Linked DNA regions of Homo sapiens. The protein of the gene in region 1 interacts with the protein of each later gene in a biochemical or structural test. Each region holds a gene or a part of one and is shown on either strand. Other genes may lie near its edges.

Region 1 (5,320 bases):
TAGGCCTACAGTAGGTGCTCAGTAAACGCTTACACGATATGAGAGATTAAATGGCTCTGTAGGGTCAGCTCTTCAGTCCTGGGCCCTCGGCTGCCTCCTAATAACACAGGATTCACTAGGCTAGGGAACTGGCATGGATAGGCAATGGTGACTCTTTCCTTCCAGGGAGGTGATGGAGATGAGCTGGTGAGGGCAGAACAGACATATGGCACTCTGAAGCCAACAGGCTGCGCCTGATGCCATCCAGGGCAGGGATGGGAGCCCCGCCAGGCTGGGAGCAGTGGTTCCAGCTGGAAGCCACTTATTCCTGGGTCCAAGCCCCAGTTCTCTGAGTTTAACTTATCTGAGTCCCAATTTCCTGGGAAATGGCATGGGAGACCTCCTTTTCCATTTCTGGGAGGGCCAGAGATGATGACGCACAGCACTTGGCACATCATAGGTGCCCAGTAAATGGTGACTAACAACAGTATATGATTACTCCAGTGGGGAGAGCGGGTATGGCTTCCTGAGGGAGGTGGCCTTGAGCTAGGCCTCCAGGGTTTCTTGAGTTTTTTGGCAGATGATGCCAGGGAAAGGTATGGCCAGGGCTCTGTGAGAGATGAAAGGCATCTGGGAGAAATGGCAGGGAGAGATCTGTTGGGCTAGAAACTGGGGCTCTTCAGCAAACAGGTAGGTGATGGCCTGGGAAGGAGGCAGCAGGAGGCCAGGGAAGGAGGCAGGGAGACTTCAGGAAAGGTCTGCGGTGCTGTGTGAGGATTTTCTCTGGACCACCAACTTTTCAAGGTGTTGATAGTGATGGCGGGTAGTAGCTGCTGGCTTGGCAGGGCAATGCTGTAACTCCAGGCACTGTGGGGAGGGGGCCTCCATGCAGGAGGATGACACCAGCAGGCTGGCATTTAGTGGGAGGCTGTGGATTAGGATGGGGACAGTGGAGGCTGCAAGGCCAGTGTTGGGGATGAAGCCGTCCCAAACTCAGCCTGAACTCCCTGGCAGGACAAGCTACATAATTTGTGGGGCAAGCACAAAATGGAAATGCAGGGCTCTTTGTTAAAAATTATTAACAATTTCAAAATGATGACTGCAGAGCATTAAACCAAACATAGGCCCTTCTAAGCATGGGGCCCTCAGGAGGATGAGTACTCATGAAGCCATCTCTGTGCCCTGGACTAAAGGGGAGGCCATCTGTCTGTCTCCATCGATTTATCCATCCATCCATCCATCCATCCACCCACCCACCAATCCATTTATGCATCTCTACATGCATTTATTTATCTAGTGATTATTTCACTATCCATTCAGCAGATAGGCCCTGGGTTGGACACTGATAAGGACACAAATACAGGTGAGATGGGAGCCACCCACAGTCCACCAGGTCAAACCTGCACCTTTACCTTCAATGCTCTGGGCCAGGAGGGGCCAGGGCTTCTGTGACATGTTTAGAAAGCTGAGCCCTACCCCTCTAAGGCTAACTGGAAACCCTGCCCCACCCTATAACCACTGAGGCTCAGCCTCAGAAGTGAAGAAGCTGGTGGTGTCACTGCCCTTGGGTTTCCACTTCTCAGAAGGGAAGGTAACAGAGCAGCAGCAATGAGGATGTGGCAAAACAGTCACAAGAAGCATGGTAGGAACTCTCAGGGGCTAAGGGCAGAGCTGGATGGACCTCTGGGGGCCACTAAACTTCTCCCTTGGCTTCTCCCCACTTTATTATAAGAGGAAACTATGATTAGAATGAAGAAGTGGTATGGCCAAAAGCTCGGGGGTCCAGCAAACCACCCAGGAAGATTCCCATTTCTTGTTGGGACGGCTTTGCTCCTTTTCAGCCCATAGCCCAGACAGACCTGGAGGCTGAGCCCTGAACCACAGAGGTGGAGCTGGGTCTCTCCAGGCCTTCAGAGAGATGGTAAAGACCCAGCACCTGTGGTGGAACAAAGGCGAGCCCAGGTCCCAGGCTCAGCGTCATCACCAATGATCTGTACGGACCTTAGGTGCAACCCTTCCCCTCTCTGGACCTTAGTTCCCATCCATACAATAAAGCAGTTGGATCAGGTGACCCCCAAAAGTCCTTTTCATCTCTGACATTCAGGAACTTTCAGACCCCCTGACCCTCCCAAGGGACAGCCCTCTCCATCACAGGGCGGAGAAGCTGGTACCTCTGGCAGATAAAAGGTTTCAGGCACCTGAGACATCAAATAGCCCTGATCTGAATTGAGGAGAGGAGGGGATTTTAATGCGGTTAAAGCAGTACACTTTGATTTTCAGCCTCCTGCACCAGGCTGGGGGTGGGCTACCCCAGGAAGCATCTGGTGGATGTAGGGGGCGGGGGCAGGGTGGGCTCTGGGGCTAAGGCTTGGAGGTTCAGGAAGACTTTATCCTGAGGATCTGGGCCTGAGGGCTCAGGAGGGATGTGAAGTGGGCTTCCACACTGGAAGCAACAAGCATGGGAATTTCACACCCACTCCCACCAGAGGTAGGTCCCTGTGTCCATTCCCCCCCTCACCTCTGGATCCCATCACTCATCTGGGCCAAAGCCTTGCTTCCTCTTGAAATTAGAGCATATGAGGTTTGAAAACGCAGCACTGGAAGAGACCTAAAGGGTTACAGCATCCACACACAGCCCCTAGTGGGCCTTCCTCCCCGACCCTCCCTGCTCAGTATCTCAGGAAAATGGGCATGTGGGAACTGTAGGAGCCCTCTGAGCTCCTCAAGAAACTGAGCACGTTAAGGGGCCACACTAATTGTCAGAAAGTTCCTCATTGTTATTGCAGGTTAAAGTTTTCCATTAGTGGTCATCGATCCTGACCTCTTTCTGTAATGTGTAGAAAAAGGGTAAGAAAAAAACCCTTTCATTGTGAAATTAAATATGCATGATCCCTGAGTACACAGCAAGGCTTGTGCAGCTGCCAATCTGGGCTGGCATGGCTTGGAATCCTGAAATTGTTTTAGGGCTGGAAGAAAGATTTACCATCATCTGGGTCAACCTCCTCGTTTGACTGATGGGAAAACTGAGGCCCCAGAAGGGAACGATCTGTGCACAGTCCCATAGGGTTCTAGGGTCTGATGACTACCTCTGGAATGCTGAGGGCCCCCACAGCTGAGGCACATTCTCAGGGTTTACACTGGATCCCCAGGGGCATCCCAGGCCCCATCCAGCCTCTCATCAAGGGGATCTGGAGTCAGAAACACCCAGGTGCAAATCCCAGCTCCGCCACTTCCGAGCTGTGGGACTTTAGGCAACTGACTCTGCGCACTTTCTCACCTGTAAAATGGGGAGAGTTTAGCTGGGTGCGGTGGCTCACGCCTGTAATCCCAGCACTTTGGGAGTCTGAGGCAGGCGGATCACTTGAGGTCAGGTAGTTCGAGACCAGCCTGGCCAACACGGTGAAACCCCATCTGTACTAAAAATATAAAAATTAGCTGGGCATGGTGGCGCACACGCCTGTAATCCCAGCTACTTGGGAGGCTGAGGCAGGAGAATCACTTGAGCTTGGGAAGCGGAGGTTGCGGTGAGCCAAGATCATACCATTGCACTCCAGCCTGGGCAACAGAGTGAGACTCCATCTCAAAAAAAAAAAAAAAAAAAAGTGGGGAGAGTTTATATATCTAATTTTGAGGTTGCTGTGACGGTTTATTTATTTATTTATTTATTTTTTTTGAGACAGTCTTGCCCTGTCGCTTAGGCTCACTGCAATCTCCGCCTCCTGGATTCAAGCAATTCTAGTGCCTCAGCCTCCTGAGTAGCTGGGATACAGGTGCGCACCACCACGTCTGGCTAATTTTTGTATTTTTAGTAGAGACAGGGTTTCACCATGTTGGCCAGGCTGGTCTCAAACTCCAGACCTCGGGTGATCCACCCGCCTCGGCCTCCCAAAGTGCTGGGATTACATGTGTGAGCCACCGTGCCCAGCCTCGATGGTTAAATTAATCCAGTAAATATTTACTAAGAATGTCCTGAATGCCCAGCATGTTCCAAGTGCTGAGGAATACAGCAGCAACTTTGAGGTAACAGATGTAAAGCACAATTGAAGTAGACACAGAAAGTGCTAAGAACGAGTTGGTTCCTGTTATATCATCATGCTCACACTGCTTCCCAGCTGAGGTGCTACAAGCCCTGACCCTGGGAAGGGGCCCAACACCCCTTCCCTTCCCTCCTAACGCTCTGGGTCAGAAGACAGGGGGCACCAAAAAGATTCCCATTCCAAGAACCCACTGCCCACTGGGTTCTGAATCAAATGCAAGAAATGGGTGGGCATTTCAGAAGACCTTTTCATCCCTTTCTCCCTTCCCACTGCATTCAGCAGCAGCCTGTTCTGAGCCAATGCCCAGAGCACCCTCCTTTAGCCTAGAAGGCAGCTGGTCTCAGAGTCAGACTGTGGCCTGTGCCTGGAGGATGGACACGGATCTTTGGAACATACATGGTGTCCAGGTCCCTTCTGTGGGCAGAGCCTTTTGCAGGTTGCAGATTAATTTCACAGCCAAGTGTTCCAATGCAGGAGGCCAGGAGAGCAGTGGTTCTCTCAGCCAGTGGCCAGAGGTCCAGCTGTGAAGTGCAGGAACTGTGGTAAGCACCTTGCCAATGCTGTTGTCTCATGGAGCCCACACACGGTCCTGCTGCTCACAGAGAAGGAGATTGAGGCCCAGAGAGGCAAGGTGCTGCCCCGGGGTCACACAGTCAGCCAGAAACTGACTCGGGGTCAATGCATAGTCATCTGATGCCCAAGCCTGGTGCTGGTTACCCACAGCGCTCACTGCCTCCCAGCTGCGGAAGGAGCCCAGAGATGGGATGTGGGGGGTCTGAGGTTGGCCACACGGTGGATTTAAATCAAGCCAGGGCAAGCACTGGGTCTCCTGACTCTGGATCCACGGTGCTTTCCACTGCCTGCCCCACATGTGTGGGCAATTATAAGTCCCAGCTCTTCTTCCCGCAGAGGAGGGGGGCTGCTGATAACTGCTGTCTGGGAGGAGGGTGCTGACCAGATGGTCTCTTTCCTCTCTCAAGACCAAGCCAGGGCCCGGGCAGACCTTGGAGCAGTCAGACCTGAGGCTGCACTTTCTGCTGGGGAAGGTGCTGAAGCCAGGAGCAGGCTCTGCAGGAGGATGGAGATTCTTCCCTCTGACTGGGAGCTTCCCGGGGAGCACGAGGTAAGCCTTTAGAGTCAGGCAGACTTCAGCCTAAACACCACCTTAACTCACCGTATGGCCCTGGGAAAGTCACTTAGCCTCTCCAGATCTCAGCTTCCTCATCTACAAAAAGTAGGTAATAACACTGATTTCAAAAACTTGCCATGAGGACTCCAAGGTGTGTGAAGTACCAGGCTCTATG
Region 2 (5,320 bases), on another chromosome or scaffold:
CAACACCATAAGCAGCTTTATATATTTTGTCTACATAGCTAAGGAAAGGGCCAGATTGAAGAGTAGATGAACCACAAAAGTGTTTCTTCTTACTACAAACTGTTGTCTACCAACTACAACCCCACAATTTCTGACAAAGACAGGGAGTCCTGCCGGTACTTCCATCCTGTTTCCCAGCTTTCACAATTTATATGAAGGAAAGGATTGTGGGAATTCCATGCTAGAAATCTGGACTTATATTCCTTTAAAACAAAAAACATAAAAAGCAACTTTCCATGTACAGGGGAAGGGGACCAGGTGAGGGTGAGAAAGAGTGAGATTTAGGGGAGAGAGAGGGGCATAAAAAAGCATAAATCTTTTGCATACTTATAAGGTTATTCACTGAATAGGCTTGAACATATGTCAGATAATGTGGTTGGTGCTAAAGCTGAGTGAGATCTACCACCAGGGAAATTTTAATAATAACTGAAGACATTAAGAAAAGGATAAAATATCTGTCACAAGCATTAAGTAAAAAAATCAAATTATAGCTTAGATTCACCTTCAACTATAGACTTTTATGGCAATAAATATTATATGGGAATAAAGAAAGGATGATATAGATACATTTTTCAGGAGTTTGGTCTTGTTAAAAGAATAGGGTCAAAACTGGAAGACAGCACACATTTAGTTACATGGAATATCAATAAGTTTAGACTCAGTGATGACAATGCAAATGGCGTGTTTAGGCTTGGGCATGAAACCTGCTTGTCCAGAGTGGAGAGGATGGAAAACATAAAAATGGGAGGAAGATGAAAGACACATGAGGGGGTGATTGTCCAGGGTGCTGGATATCACAAAAAGATCTTGGCTTTTATCTTGAGAAAATGAGGAAAACAGCGTGAAAATGTAGCTGTTATTTGCTGTGACGCTGACATTGCTGCATCCTGGCTAATCTGTGAGCAGCATGCAAGACTGGAGGGGACAAACAGGAGAGACTGTCAGAATCCAGACACAGCTGATGGAGGCCAACACCAGGGTGAAAGGGGTAAGACTGAGCAGACAGAATTATGTGATGGAGGGATAAAAAAAGACGTGGGTATGGCGATGAAGCAAGCAATCCAAGACTAGAGAATGACGTTTTATGACAGAAAGGCTTAAAAGAAAATCCTCAAAAGTACAAACCTGGTCTCCATGTTTCAGTTCTGTCAGCATAACAATAACTTTGACTTTTCTTTGGAAGATCATCTGCCAAAAGTCACCAATGGTCTCCTTCAGTGGTCCCTGAGCAGCAATCATCACTTCAGGTTTCCAGTAGCTCTTTTTAGACAAAAAAAGGGTGGGACTTCGTTACTACAGAAGAGAGCTCAGTAGATTCTTAAAGTAACCATTTGGAAATATAGTCAGTTTGATATCAATGCTGTTACATACAAATAGTAATATTCTTATGTTTCTTACAAGAAACAATGTAATAGCTATATGTAAAATAATTATACAGATAATAGTAATTCTTAGCTAATAATGTGAAATCAAGATTACAACATATCTTGCGAAACAAATTTTCCTTTCCACAAAAGACACACATTTTTGTTTCTCTATAAAGGTTAATGTGATTGTAAAAAGGAATTACTTAAGCATTTCAAATTACCTTCATCGTGTCTATACTAATTTTAATTAGTGTCTTTACATTCTTATTATATTTCCTAATTAAACTAATATTCTATGAATGTGTGCTTTAGGAAACTTTGGAAAATAAGTAAATCCAACAGTGTATAAATAATAAATATTTAATAAATGACTAAAGTTTCATTGTTTGAATTCTCAGTTAATTAAAAAAGTGGGGGGATATGACACAGACTCACCTAATAATTCAGTTTATCTGAATGAAAAGTTTCTAACCATACAAATATACAAATTTGTCATTGCCTACAATTTGGGTATCTGAGTATGTATAAACATTTTCAAATACTTGTATTTGCTCAAATTTTACTATTTTTAAAATTGATGTGATTATAGCTATATTTGTCATAAAATATAACCAATAGCATTATCTTATTTTGTCTCAGGTTATTAGGTTATAGTATTTTTAAATCTTTCATTAAGTTAAATTGTAGCATTGAAATTGAAACTCTCATGTCAATCTATATGTAGTTATGACCAAGCTCATTATTCTTTTATAAAATCGCTTAATGAATGGCCCTAATAACATAGATATTATTTTAAAATGTTTGGATCTTGGGTTTTGGCAATTTAAGTACCTACCATTATAAAAGATGCATTGATGTATTTGCTTGGTTCCTCTGAATCACTGTCATCATCAGAGGATTCATCTGAATCATGCTCACTCTCTTTACTCATTTCCAGCTCATGTTTAAGTGGCACTCTGTTATAGTCATCTATGTGAAATAAATCAGTAGTAAGTCTTCCTTGAAAAAATTAAATTTCTTCTTCATTGTCATGTGGAAATTTGAAAGTATTTAAAAAGGGACAGATTGTATTATGAAAACTTACTGATCTACATGAAATAAGATCCTATATAAAATTCAGTACTTGTCGATAAACAAATTATACAACAAAAGTCTAAGAAAAAGGATTCCAGGAAAAAACATGGAACATAATTCCATGTCAAACAACAAAGAGATATCATATCATTATATATGATTATTTAATCTTTGATACATATACTTTAATTTCCCATGGACTATTATAATTCTGCTTGATATAAGTTTACAAAATACATAGCGTAGATTTTTTCCCTCAATTATACTCCAGTAATATTAAATTAACAATCTTATATGGGTAGCTTTGATTAATTATTTAGCCCAGAAAATTATTTGACCTATAATTTCTCACTGTTTCTTAATTTCTATAATTTATAATAACTTGGTCAAATGATTTGATTAACCATATCACCATCAATTCCATATTTTAAACTACATTCATAAGGACTCCTATGAAAATTAACTAGGTCAACCATGCACTGATCTGATTTATTTGGTCATCTAATTTATCAACTTGTGTTATATTTTATCCATGCTAATTTTAGTTTATGCAGCTGAATAAAATTACCATATGTGATCATTTTAATATGCTTAAATAGTAGAATTCAAGTATTGAAACTGTGCATATTTTGATCTGTTAAATTTGAAGATTTAGAATTTATAGAGTATTTTCCCCTTACTTTCAACCTCCCAGTTATAAGGGATAAAAAGGAAACATATAGAGAACAAATGGATGTAATTTTTACTATTTGTCAATTACCCTGGAGTAAATAACTGAAATAAACTAAAAATGAAAGAAAATGGGTAAAAGAGACTTGCTCTTTTTTCTCCCAGCTTTATATATTTCTCTTTTATGACAACCCATTTCTGAAATAATTGGTAAAAAGAAAACACTGAATACAGTCTACCCTCCAAAGCCCATTGTAAATGTTCAGGATTATAAGTTCTTGCAATAACTAGTATTTTAATACCTAGTAACTTCTTCCCTATTAACAACCAAATGTTGAAAACTTGCTTCAAGATAATTTATATGACTGTGTGTCCCACATTAAACAAATCCAAAAGAGCTTAACTTTATCTGATACAAAAAATAAAAAAATAAACTACATACATGGGATGACATTAGAATTCCTGTTTTTACTTTTATTTTCTTCTTGATTTCCAATGTGCTGTGTCCTCCAGCTCCTATATGAAGGAAGTCTCTGAAAAAAAAAAAAAAAACAGAAAAACTCCTTTAAAATGTAAATATTGGCTTATTGCATCATAAGATGCTCCCTAAGGAAAAGCATTTCATTAATTTTTGTGAAATTTGCATATGCTCCCTATAGGCCATAATTTTTCGGTTTGCCTCTGATTTTTTTTCTTTAAATTGCTCAGGCATTTAGTCCTTTTGACAGGGCTAGTATGCACTAAAGATATATATGTAACAGACTATGTCTCCTTCTTCAGAGCTGCTTGATAGAAAAATAATATAGTTTGTTCTTATATAAATTGAAACCACTAGACCGATGTTGATCTATATTGCAAAAGCAATGGTAAGTTATTTTAAATGATCAGAAATAAACTTTGGAGACAACACATTCTTAGGAGACTTGGCACATGTTTTGAAAGTTCATTCTTAATTTGTTTACACCTTCCAGATTGCTTTCCTCTCACCCACAGTTCCTAATTAGTCAGAAAAGATCCATCATTTCTATACACAAATCCTTTTAGTTTTCTTTCTTCCTACTTAATCCAGTCTGCCTTCATTTCTCGCTTGTAAAACATCAACAATTTCCTAACTGGCCTCTTTGTCTTCAATCTCGCCTGCTCTAATCCTTCTAAAACACAAAACAGAAGATGCTCTTCTGAAGATGAACAGCTTTCCATCACTATAAGAGGACAACAAACCTCCTCAAAATAGCATAAAAAGTCTTTATTGATACGCCCCTGACTGTTTCTCCAGCCTTACACCTTACTGGGTCCCTCAATACTTCTACCAAACCAGCTTCCTCAATTCTTGGAAGGGCCAAGCTGTTCTTCAACTCTTGGCACATAAACACTTTTTTTTTTTTTTCTTGCTTGAACTACCCTTTCCCCTTTTGGTTGCTCTAATAACTTTTCTTACCCTCTAGGTATCAGTTTAAATACCAATTTCTTCTGGAAGACACCCCTGCCTACAGTCTTTCCACTAGTCCTTAAATAAGTATTTGTCAAGTGAATAATATTTAATGATAATAGATAATGTTACAAATAACTGAAACTGAGAAGGCTCCTCATGTACAATTCGGTAAGATTTTATATACACACACACGCATGTAGATACGTGTGTGTATATAGACATATATTTTTTCAGCATAGTACCCTCATTCAAACTAATTATGGCACCCTGTTTCAAACCTCATTCTTTGCTACGTAATTGAGTGAAAGAAAATATCATCACTGAATTTTAGGCCACTTGAACACCACCATGAGCTGCATGAAGGACCAGATGTTTTGGAAACTGTTACAACACCTTGTGCTCTTGTGAGTGTAGTCACCGAGGCAGCCTATGCCCTGTAGCAATACTCAGGATTATAGGTGGAATTAATGGCTCACCTTCATCTAAGACACAAAGGATCTGTCACTCTTAAATCTCTACCTGTTTCACTTGCCATCACAAGTCTAAGCTTCCCAGTGCATCCACATTCCCCAGATTTTTATTCCTGAATGGTTATTTGTATCCTCAGATACAACCCAGTCTCTTACATCTAACCCATCAGTGCCTTCCTCCCTGCCCTCTGATGCCCATCGTCTGTCATCTGTGAACTCCCATTTATCTTAATCATCTTCTCCCAACAGTCACTTCACCCTTTTTTTTT
Region 3 (5,320 bases), on another chromosome or scaffold:
AATTTATAACTTGCAATATTTACTACATGAATATAATAATTGACAATCAAGCTCCAAATCTACAATAAAGCTATAAAAATGACAGTTCTTAAGAATCTCTATAGGGAAAACCTAAAATCATTTTCCAAAAAAATGTGTTTCAATAAAAGTTTCCACTTTTCCTTTTTAGGTTATTTTAATTTCCTCGAAAAGAAAACTAGCCAGTGTTCAGTTGCATTATGTAGCTTTCCACAACACTCTACACTAACAAAGAGGGCAGTCTCTTACGTCCATAAGAGCAGCATTGATGTAGTTACTGCTCTCCCCATCAATTGTAATTAAAAAAGGCAGACATCTGTCAGGTGGCAGCATGTCCATGAAACGGTTCTTGTCATGGTTCCTTGGCAGGCACGCTATACTGCAGTCTTCAGCTTGTAGTCGAGGGGTGACTGAATTCAGAGTCTAAAAAGAAAAGAGAACCCAGGTTAAAAGACAGTGTGACCCATTTAACAGTATAACACAGATCCATCAGGAATTTAGAAGGCCAAGTAGAAAGTGAAGGATTTGTGCGAGGCAATGGCATTTGCTACTATGACAGGCTGATAGACCTTGTAGTTAAAGCTAATGAAGCCTGAGAAGTGACAAAGAAACAAGACACACATTGTTCAGGGCTCCTCTTCTTAAAAGGAAAAGGTACGCTAAACAACACTGCTACCTGCAAAATGCATTGCCTTAACCAAAGAAAATGCAATCGGGCAGTCCATTATGATAATGACCCTTCATCACACTGGGAAACGGTATCATTTGTAGTAACATCTGGGCTTGCCATATTTGAAGATAAGCTATGGCATGTTGGAAAGAGCACTGGATCAACAATCAAAGAATTTGGTCTCTGCCCTTGATTTTATTTTCACCCACCTTCAGGGGTGTTTTAAGGGCAGTGAAAACATTTAGGGCTATTTTGAAATAACATGTACTACAAACTTCATTTATTATTATTATTACTATTATTATTTTTGAGACAGGGTCTTACTCTGTTGCCCAGGTTGGAGTGCAGTGGCAATATCTTGGCTCACCACAGCCTTCCAGGGTTAAGCAAACTTCCAGGGTCAAGCAATCCTCCCATCTCAACCTCCTGAGTAGCTGGGACTACAGGCATGCACCACCACACCCGGCTATTTTTTATATTTTTTGTAGAGATGAGGTTTTGCCATGTTGGCCAGGCTGGTCTTGAACTGCTGACCTCAAGATCTGCCTGCCTTGGCATCCCAAAGTGCTAGGATTATAGGTGTGAGCTGCCACTGAACCCAGACTCAGTTATAATTAATGTGCTTGATCTCATCACATTGTGAGTGACCCAGGTCAAAATCTGTATGACTGCATGAAAAAAAGGCTATAAATACACACTAAATACACACAAATCACCACTCATTTTGACTTGTTATTATTTCTTTTTTTTTTCTGAGACGGAGTCTCGCTCTGTTGCCCATGCTGGAGTGCAGTGGTGCAATCTCGGCTCACTGCAAGCTCCGCCTGCCAGGTTCACGCCATTCTCCTGCCTCAGCCTCCCGAGTAGCTGGGACTACAGGCACCCGCCACCATGCCTGGCTAATTTTTTTTGTCTTTTTAGTAGAGACGGGGTTTCACCGTGTTAGCCAGGATGGTCTCGATCTCCTGACCTCGTGATCCACCCGCCTCGGCCTCCCAAAGTGCTGGGATTGCAGGCATGAGCCACTGCGCCTGGCCTAATTTTTGACTTTTATGATACCTTTCCCCTTTGCTCTTCCCTAAGTCTGAACTTATTTGTCATTTTGGATATAGTAGATATAAATTCATCAATAGAAAAGTGACTATATAATATGTATAATGAAAGAGATACGTATTGTATTTAAAACAGGATCAAAGGTTATAAATTTGACTTGAAAGACCTTCCTTGAAAGGATTCCTAGCGCCCAGAACAAATTGTAGTAAGTCACAAAAGAGGTTTTAGAAATAGTTAATACCTGAAATTCATCCTTGAGATGTGAAGAGTTAGTCTGGGAGTCTATTCTAATCATATCAAAATATGCAGCTTTAAATTCACAGACAGGTATGGCAGTTTCTCCACATAAGCAGGCTTCTAAAATGGCATCATGAATAAAAATGTACTGTTCCTACCAAAAGAATGAAAAAGAAAATTTTGTACTAGTTTTAGTATCACTTTTCTGTCATCAAAGTTAGGAAATACAGAAAATTTTCTCTATATGGAAATATGAATTAAAACACCAATATTTTTCTATATGACTCAGCTAATATTGATTACACATGAAAAACATCTCTTTCGGTTGAGTAGAGTATATATGAGAGACATCTACTCTTTGTTTGCAAAAAAAATAAAAAATAAAAAAAAGTCCACTACAGGTAAATCTACATACCTCTGTCTGGACCATATTAATACGCCGAGATCTTAAGGCTTTGACACAATTGTAAATATCAACAACACCCTCTCTTTCAGCCATGTCTAGCATGATGTCAATCACAATGTAGCAGCCAGTTCGTCCAGCACCAGCACTGAAAAACAATTAAATTTAATGAATTGTAAGAAGCATGTTAGTCTTCATAACCTTAAATAAGGACTTTTTCCACTGTCAGATAGGTAGAATCAAATTGATTTAACAAACTGCAAGGCACAGCACTTGTCCCTGCTGTGTAAAAGCTTATTAATGTACAAATAGCTTCATGCAGAGTATCTGCTTTGGTATAAACTAAAGATTGGAACAAGAGTTCTAAATTATTTTCAAATTGAAAATAACACTGTTTAAGTTCCACACCTCTCTCACAATTTTCATTTTATGTAAATTTAATACACATAATTTCAAGTTCATAGAATTGATCAAGTGGCAGATTCACGCTTCAAAATTTAACTCAAGATTGAATATTTTTAGATTCATCTAGTTGTGTGTCCTCTGGCAACAATGTGAGAATGTTGGCTCACTCACTGTCTTCACCTCTTGTAAATACCAAGGCAAAAGAAAATTAATTCCCAAAACTTTAAACGGGAAATCTGAGGAGCCACGCTTCACAGGAAATGCAAATGGTGGGGGTGGGCAAGAGAATGACGGTTATCAAAGGGGAGGAGAGTAACAGTGTAAAGACTATTTGAATCATGATCTGAAGAGAAATGAAAATGAATTATTAGGTGTAGAATATGATTCCCAGCAAATCAAAAGGCTAGCCGCTATCTTACTGTATTTAATTCTAAAGTTAATTTTTAAAAATACTTTTAAAAAATTATATTTTAGTCTTTAATTGGCAAATAATAATGTATATATTCTTGGGTACATAGTGATATTTTAATACACATAATGTAGAGTGATCAGAAAAGGGTGATTGGCATATGCGTCCTCTCAAACATGTATCATTTATGTTGTGAACATTCAGTATCTTCCTTCTAGCTCTCTCAAACTAAACATTATCATTTACCAGACTCATCCTACAGTGGTACAGAACACTAAAATGTATTCCTCTATCTCACCATATTTTGTGTCCTTTAATTGTAATATACTGTGATTATTTTGCAGCTGGGGAATGTTTCTCCAATTTTATATATAGAAGTCAATGGGGAAAACAAAATAAGGATTTTTTGCGGGGAGTGGGGAATTCACTTTGTAGTCCAGAGATGCTTCAGTGTAGGTGGAAAATGACACTTCTGTTTCAAGAGAGTATCTGAGAATCTTGGAGCATTTCTGAAGCAAGCAATTCATAAGAAAGTAAACCTCTCTGATAAATCAAGAAATTCTTAAGTTGAAAACCTATTTATCTCATTTTCTAAGTGCTTAGATAGGCTAGTAACATTATTTCCTTGTTATTCAGATTTGGTCACTTCTCTTAAACTCACTGTTCTTTTAGAAATTTAAGCAAAAGATATTGTGGCTATCTCTATTTATCTTTGTCCCCTACCATCTTCTCAATCACTGTTCCCAGAGTTGGAGACAGGAATGTAATTTAAGAGTACATCAGATTTCATGAGGAGGATTGAAAGGAAGTTTTTTTTGTTTTCAGGGTACATAGTATCTGATCCTATGGGACGTTTTACCTTTACTTCATTCTCTGCTTTTTTTCCCCTCTTTTATACATGGTTATTTAAATCCTGAATAGGTTGGATTTTCAGAAAGCAAAAAATGCTTAGGTACAACCTATTATGTAGCTTGGAGGGAAGAGCGTATGAGAATGGTGTGCAGCATCATTTAGGAAACGCTTTTCAGATTCAGTACTTATTTTTCTGGTCACACCTCAAAATGAGGCCATGTAATTTGCTTTTAGTATCTCTAAATGCTTGTTTTAAGAGAAGTTTCTAATCAGAAGAAAGTCTGGATATAATGCTCGTGTTTTTTGGCATATATTTGCTGAATCTCACTGATGCAGTTTTCAAGGTCCTCTAATGTGAATTCTTTAAAAAAAATTTTTAAATAGCTGTTTTGCAGCACAAATCCTTGCAATTTAGGCCATTTAGTAACTCTGTATGTCTGAAATTTAGTTTTAAAGCTGGAATTCTATTGGGAATTTTCTAGATTGGCAAGAAATGTCTATTTCAACCTAGCATTCTATACAATATGGGATTTGCAAAAGTGATAAAAACAAAAAACACAGATGTTGCCATTAAAAGGCAGAGTTTCTATACTTTAAATTGTGGATAACACTACACGCATTAGGATGAATGTATGTATTTCTTAAGTTCCTGTTTTATAGACTACTTACAGCCAACTTTTATTTTATTGCTGTTTTACTTTATCTATAATACAAGCAAGCTGGAACTTCGTAAGCACACATTAGTTTTTGTGCTCAAAAGCCTTGTCTTGATACTCTAAAAAAAGCTGATTGCATACAGTCAATACCATTTGGACCACCACTTACCTGCAATGTACAACGATGGGGCCAGCACTGGGAGGGTTTGATAACTTGACTCGCCGGATAAAGGAAAGCAGCCCTGTAGCATGGTAGGGCACTCCATGGTCAGGCCAGCCCGTGAAATGGAACTGTTTAACTTCACGGATTTCATTGTACCCCCTCTGTGCAAAGATGGAAAGAAATGTTTTCAAAAGCCATTTTAATGGCCAAAATAAAGCCATTAAACACAATTATGGGTACAGACCCAACTGACAATGATAACAATAAAACCTTTACGAAAGACTATGCCTTTTCTTAAAAAAAAAATATAATAAAATGAAGGCCTAACATGGACTAGGAGCTTACCTTTATTGTCAGACAACTGCCAAAGAAAGAAAATTATAAGTCTTGCTCAGTTCTAAAAGTCTGGGTAAATTTTATTTACTTTGACAGCTTGTTTCTTGCTGGGAGTGAC
Region 4 (5,320 bases), on another chromosome or scaffold:
TGGCTTGGTAAGGCAGAGGGCACATTTTGTTTTGGCTGCATCTCAAAGCCGATTAAAAGGATGGTTTTGAACAAAAATGCACACACAGCCGTTGGGACAAAGACACTTAACCTGGATAACTAGACGGGCACAGGCCATCCAGATTTTCAGAATATGCTGATACCTTGCTGTGCTCATCTGTCCTACTTCATGTGGTTAATTAAGGCACCCGCAGAACAGGAAACCAGTACACTATGAATCTGGTGTTTCCTCTTCCTAAGAAATGGGAAGGTAAGATACTGTATATGGGCAGCCATAAGAAAGACCATGGACGTTTTGCTCAATGGGCCTGGGTTTGAATCCTTACTAGCTAATTAACCACGAACAAGGGGCATATTTAACTCCTTTAAGCCTCAGTTTTTTCATCTGTAAAATTGGAATGATACCTTTTTGTTGTTGTTGAGACGGAGTCTTGCTCTATCACTAGGCTGGAGTGCAATGGCGCGATATTGGCTCACTGCAACCTCCACCTCCCAGGTTCGAGTGATTCTCCTGCCTCAGCCTCCCGAGTAGCTGGGATTACAGGTGCCTGCCACCACGCCCAGCTAATTTTTGTATTTTTAGTAGAGACGGAGTTTCACCATGTTGGCCAGAATGGTCTCGATCTCCTGACCTGGTGGTCTGCCAGCTTCATCCTCCCAAAGTGCTGGGATTACAGGCGTGAGCCACCACGCCCGGCTGGAATGATACTTATTTAAAGGATTATTTTTAGGATTACATGGGTTAATATGTTTAAAGTCCCTTGCAGATAGTAGATATTCAGTAGAGATACATACTTCTCTTTATTTGATTGTCATTGATAAGGCTGGCTGCACTGGGCCTTTGTAATTTCTTTTATAGCCCTTTTGGGTCAGTTACAGCTTTGCTTAGAAACAATTCATGGGTTTAGGCCCCACTCAAAAACATGTTTCAGTAAAACAATATTAATACTTATGGAATCCTCTATCTTCCTTCCTCAGAACTCATTAAAAACAATATCGATCAGTACCCTTTGCTACGTGTGGGTATAGATCTTTAGGTGTGGTCTGCATTAAAAGAGTTAATACAGGTGGCCGGGCACAGTGGCTCACACCTGTAATCCCAGCACTTTGGGAGGCCAAGGCAGGCAGATCACCTGAGGTCAGGAGTTTGAGACCAGCCTGACCAGCATGGAGAAACCCTGCCTCTACTAAAAATACAAAATTAGCCGGGCATGGTGGTGCATGCCTGTAATCCCAGCTACTCAGGAGGCTGAGGCAGGAGAATCACTTGAACCTGGGAGGTGGAGGTTGCGGTGAGCGGAGATCGCACCATTGCACCATTGCACTCCAGCCTGGGCAACAAAAGCGAAACTCCGTCTCAAGAAAAGAAAAAAAAAGAGTTAATACAGTTAAAGCACTTAAAACATAGCCCAGCAAATGATAAGTACTACAAAGATGTATGTAGGTATGTTAGGTGGATAAATAGGTAGTAGACAGACATACACATATATATGTATGAGTTAGCTAGTTTAATAAATCCACATTATTGTGTCCATCTCTCTCTGGACTTAATCTCAAGTATCGTAAAATATATGACCTCCTTCTTCCTCATTCACCCTCTAATAATAGAGGATTTTAGTCAAATTACTCACACAATCACAGAGAATTGGACCCTATTAGAAAATTTATTTTCAAATTTTACAAATATCAACTTTAAATCATTACATATACTGTTCACATTTTGTTTTCCAATAAACACAAGACAACATGCCCATCAGAATTGGGATGGATGTCTGTGTAATTGACGAAGTTTGTATTACAGAGGAAGATCTTAATGTATTTAGAATTTTGGGTGCTGACTCTTAAATAGCAAAGATCACTTATAAATTGTCAAATTTCCCATGAATGCTTAGTGGGCAGATATTTTATGAAGTTTAAATGAACTTTTCTTTAAGCCACTTGTTTTTTCATAATTTATATTTTGTAGGTTGCATGTTGTAATTGTATGAACCATGTCTTTAACAGGATAATAAGAACTCCAATTTACAGAATCCTTAAATTCCAAAGTCAGTTATATTAAATATAAAAATCTTAATTTAAACCAGTCTTCTTTTTCAAATAGAAAATAATCTAAATTAGCAGATTTCTTCCCCTTTATAAAGTTATTCTTAAGCATCATAGGTCTAATAATGGAATACACAAAGAACCTAGGTATGGTTTTGTTTTTTGAATGCTGGGGCTGAAAGAGACCCAAAAGATAATCCAGTTCCATTCCTATATTTTACAGATGAGGTAACTGAGGACAATCATAATCCAGGCCTTGCCTTCAGATTTGCTAGATTTTTTTTTAACATGCTAAATTTAAATATTTCTGTTCCCTCTCAGCTGCTGTTTAATTTCCCCTGTCTACCTACCTGACAGAAGCCATTGTTCTTGTGGCTAGCCATCAGTAAAGCTGAGGAAATTTGCCTTACCTTGTTGAAGTATTGGCAAGCAGACTGTGAGCTCCTTGCCAGTGCTTATCAGCATGCTTGGCACACCTGTGCAAGGACTCAGTCAAGTAACTTGTCCATTGCAGACATTGAAAGTCTAGAGGTAATTTCCAGACATCCTCATGTGGTGCCATATTTTTAAATGGCACACCCCATAAACTTAAATAATCTAATTTCTTCCATGCACACTGTACTCCCTAAGGGACAGCTATTAGATGGCCAGGCCTGTTCCAACCCCTGGACTTTCATCACTGTATGGTGCAGAGCTTTTGGTATAAATGTGTAATCATATGACTGAGCCAAAAAAAGAGAGAGTGGTAATATATCAAAATTTAAAAAAATTTTAATGAGTTATAAATCTTAATATAGCCATCTTAGCCATAACCACAAATAAACTCATTTTTTCTGTTAAAATACTTGACAGAGTCCTTGCAATTGAATGTCTTTGTTCAACAAAAACTGTATTAAGTGTTTTAAATTTAAAATCTAATCTTATGCAAATAGCTGGTGGTCAAAACCTTTTTCCATCAAAAGAAGATCTTTGGTTTGACTTCATATTCTGGGATGTTTGTAGGTACCTGGAATGGAAACACAAAAGTAGCCATAAAGACTCTTAAACCAGGCACAATGTCCCCCGAATCATTCCTTGAGGAAGCGCAGATCATGAAGAAGCTGAAGCACGACAAGCTGGTCCAGCTCTATGCAGTGGTGTCTGAGGAGCCCATCTACATCGTCACCGAGTATATGAACAAAGGTTGGGCAACACCTCTCCTGTCTCCAGCTCACAGTGCCTTAAGGGGTTGTTTAGGGGAGAGAAATGGAAGTTTCCTACTTGCTACTTTTCTAGTTTCTGCCTGGGTCAAGTATTCCCATTAGGAACCACCAGTTATGTGCTCGTTAATGAAAACATTTTTTAAAACAGACTAACCTTGCGTTTACCCCACCCCAAATCCTTATGAAATGCCAAATACTTTTTACATGTTATGTGTGTCAGAAATTCAAGCTCCTCTCCATAATTAAAACATTCATTTTTAATATCAGGGTGGTACGGAGGGTTATGATAGTTTGCTGTTATTTTGAATGTAGTAGCTTTTGTTACATTTCCTTTTTGCAGGGCTAAACAATTAATATCAGACACTGGTCTCTAAGCTAAGTTTAGTCTCCATCATTTCAACATCTTTTTTATTTCCAGCTCTCTTCTTAAACGTCAGGCGATGAAATTACATGCTTTCAGAGACCACATTTATTCTCACATTCTCTCCCCTACAACCCCTCTGTCTTCCTAATCAAACCAGCATTGTTAGGGATAAGGCCAGAGATCATTTTGTTTTGGAAAAATAGATGAACCAAACAAGAAACAGCCTTAAAAGGCAATACATTGTTTATCAGAGGATACCAGTGTAATTTTTCTTTTCCATGTACTTTCTTTTAAAATTTAATGGGAATTTTTTTTTCTGGCAAACGGTTTGTCCTTTGTATCCAGGGTTATTTTGTAAATAACTTTGTGATTAAAGCATAAAATATCACTGATGACCATCATAAGCCTCCAGCTTCTGCAAATGATTATCCCTGCTTTGGTGTTAGTTCTAAGCCTTCTTAGGCTGTGTTATAATAGTGGCTCTGAAGCTTCCAATGTTTCATTTCAGATGTCTGATTTAAGGCTTGGCTGGCTGTGATCTAATTAAGGGGAACCATCTGCCCCACCCATATTCTTCAGATTGTCTTTTCTTGATTCAAAATCTGTAAATAAGCTAAGCTAGTGAGTCTCAAACTTTACCTTGTATTATTAGAATCACCTGTAGGCCTTCTTAAAACCCAAGTTTCTGGACCCAACCTTCAAAGTTTCTGATTTACTCGATCTGGGATGGGACCTGAGAATTTGCATATCTAACAAGTTCCCTTGTGTTATTGTAGCTGCTGGTCCCAGGACCACAGTTTTGGACCACTCAGCTGGGCTGTATTTTCCCCACATCAATTCTTTGTGCAGGGGTGATTGGGGAATGGGATTGAAGAGGTGCAGTTCTTCATAGGTTCCTCTTTATGACATACAGGGAGATTGAGTCCCATTTCTTCTAGTTTTATCAAATATATGTTGTTATTCCTAGAAATGGAATTAATGCTGTTTGTTTTTAAAAGGTAACTGTTACTTCTCCATGCCTATACTTTTTTCTACCCTGCTTTTTTATATAAACCTTTTTGTCCCCCCATGTGGATGGCATTATTCCATTTGACTACCTTATTACTTTTAATAAGAAAACCAAATACAGCTCTCTGTTGGGAATTATCTTTCAAAGTAAATTGAAATGATTTTATGTTTTGTTCATAGGAAGTTTACTGGATTTCTTAAAAGATGGAGAAGGAAGAGCTCTGAAATTACCAAATCTTGTGGACATGGCAGCACAGGTAGGCCCTGCAGGGTAACTTGATGTGCCATAGATTTAATGACGTGTCTAAGTACATTGGGTCGTGGTGTAACATGTCCTGTTCCCTGGGTTTCCACAGGTGGCTGCAGGAATGGCTTACATCGAGCGCATGAATTATATCCATAGAGATCTGCGATCAGCAAACATTCTAGTGGGGAATGGACTCATATGCAAGATTGCTGACTTCGGATTGGCCCGATTGATAGAAGACAATGAGTACACAGCAAGACAAGGTGGGCACTTGAATGACAATGGCTCGTGATCACAGCTGTGAGAACAGTCACTTACTGCACAGCCCTTCCTTCCTCCTTCCCTTCCCTTCCTTCAGAAAATACTTGAAATGTCATTCTTCAGCTTGGTTTGGACACCTTGATCTGGCAGGAATTTGACAGCTCTGCAGGTGGGA

The links. The genes of interacting proteins can lie anywhere in the genome.
Region 2: of the proteins of PDGFRB (region 1) and PTPRC, one has a biochemical effect on the other in vitro, tested with the Homo sapiens proteins (one large-scale study listed by IntAct).
Region 3: of the proteins of PDGFRB (region 1) and PTPRK, one has a biochemical effect on the other in vitro, tested with the Homo sapiens proteins (one large-scale study listed by IntAct).
Region 4: the proteins of PDGFRB (region 1) and FYN form a complex in vitro, tested with the Homo sapiens proteins (one study listed by BioGRID).

The regions. Positions count from the first base shown.
Region 1 is NC_000005.10:150,148,301-150,153,620, forward strand, and holds part of PDGFRB (platelet-derived growth factor receptor beta isoform 1 precursor), read right to left. Parts: exon of another isoform or gene 4,039-5,320; intron 1-4,038. UniProt on the Homo sapiens protein: Tyrosine-protein kinase that acts as a cell-surface receptor for homodimeric PDGFB and PDGFD and for heterodimers formed by PDGFA and PDGFB, and plays an essential role in the regulation of embryonic development, cell proliferation, survival, differentiation, chemotaxis and migration.
Region 2 is NC_000001.11:198,746,471-198,751,790, reverse strand, and holds part of PTPRC (receptor-type tyrosine-protein phosphatase C isoform 1 precursor), read right to left. Parts: intron 3,683-5,320; coding exon 3,592-3,682; intron 2,376-3,591; coding exon 2,242-2,375; intron 1,300-2,241; coding exon 1,165-1,299; intron 1-1,164. UniProt on the Homo sapiens protein: Protein tyrosine-protein phosphatase required for T-cell activation through the antigen receptor. Acts as a positive regulator of T-cell coactivation upon binding to DPP4.
Region 3 is NC_000006.12:127,980,849-127,986,168, forward strand, and holds part of PTPRK (receptor-type tyrosine-protein phosphatase kappa isoform b precursor), read right to left. Parts: intron 5,028-5,320; coding exon 4,873-5,027; intron 2,530-4,872; coding exon 2,394-2,529; intron 2,133-2,393; coding exon 1,983-2,132; intron 442-1,982; coding exon 268-441; intron 1-267. UniProt on the Homo sapiens protein: Regulation of processes involving cell contact and adhesion such as growth control, tumor invasion, and metastasis. Negative regulator of EGFR signaling pathway. Forms complexes with beta-catenin and gamma-catenin/plakoglobin.
Region 4 is NC_000006.12:111,694,202-111,699,521, reverse strand, and holds part of FYN (tyrosine-protein kinase Fyn), read left to right. Parts: coding exon of another isoform or gene 1-7; intron 8-3,065; coding exon 3,066-3,245; intron 3,246-4,817; coding exon 4,818-4,894; intron 4,895-4,993; coding exon 4,994-5,147; exon of another isoform or gene 5,148-5,320. UniProt on the Homo sapiens protein: Non-receptor tyrosine-protein kinase that plays a role in many biological processes including regulation of cell growth and survival, cell adhesion, integrin-mediated signaling, cytoskeletal remodeling, cell motility, immune response and axon guidance.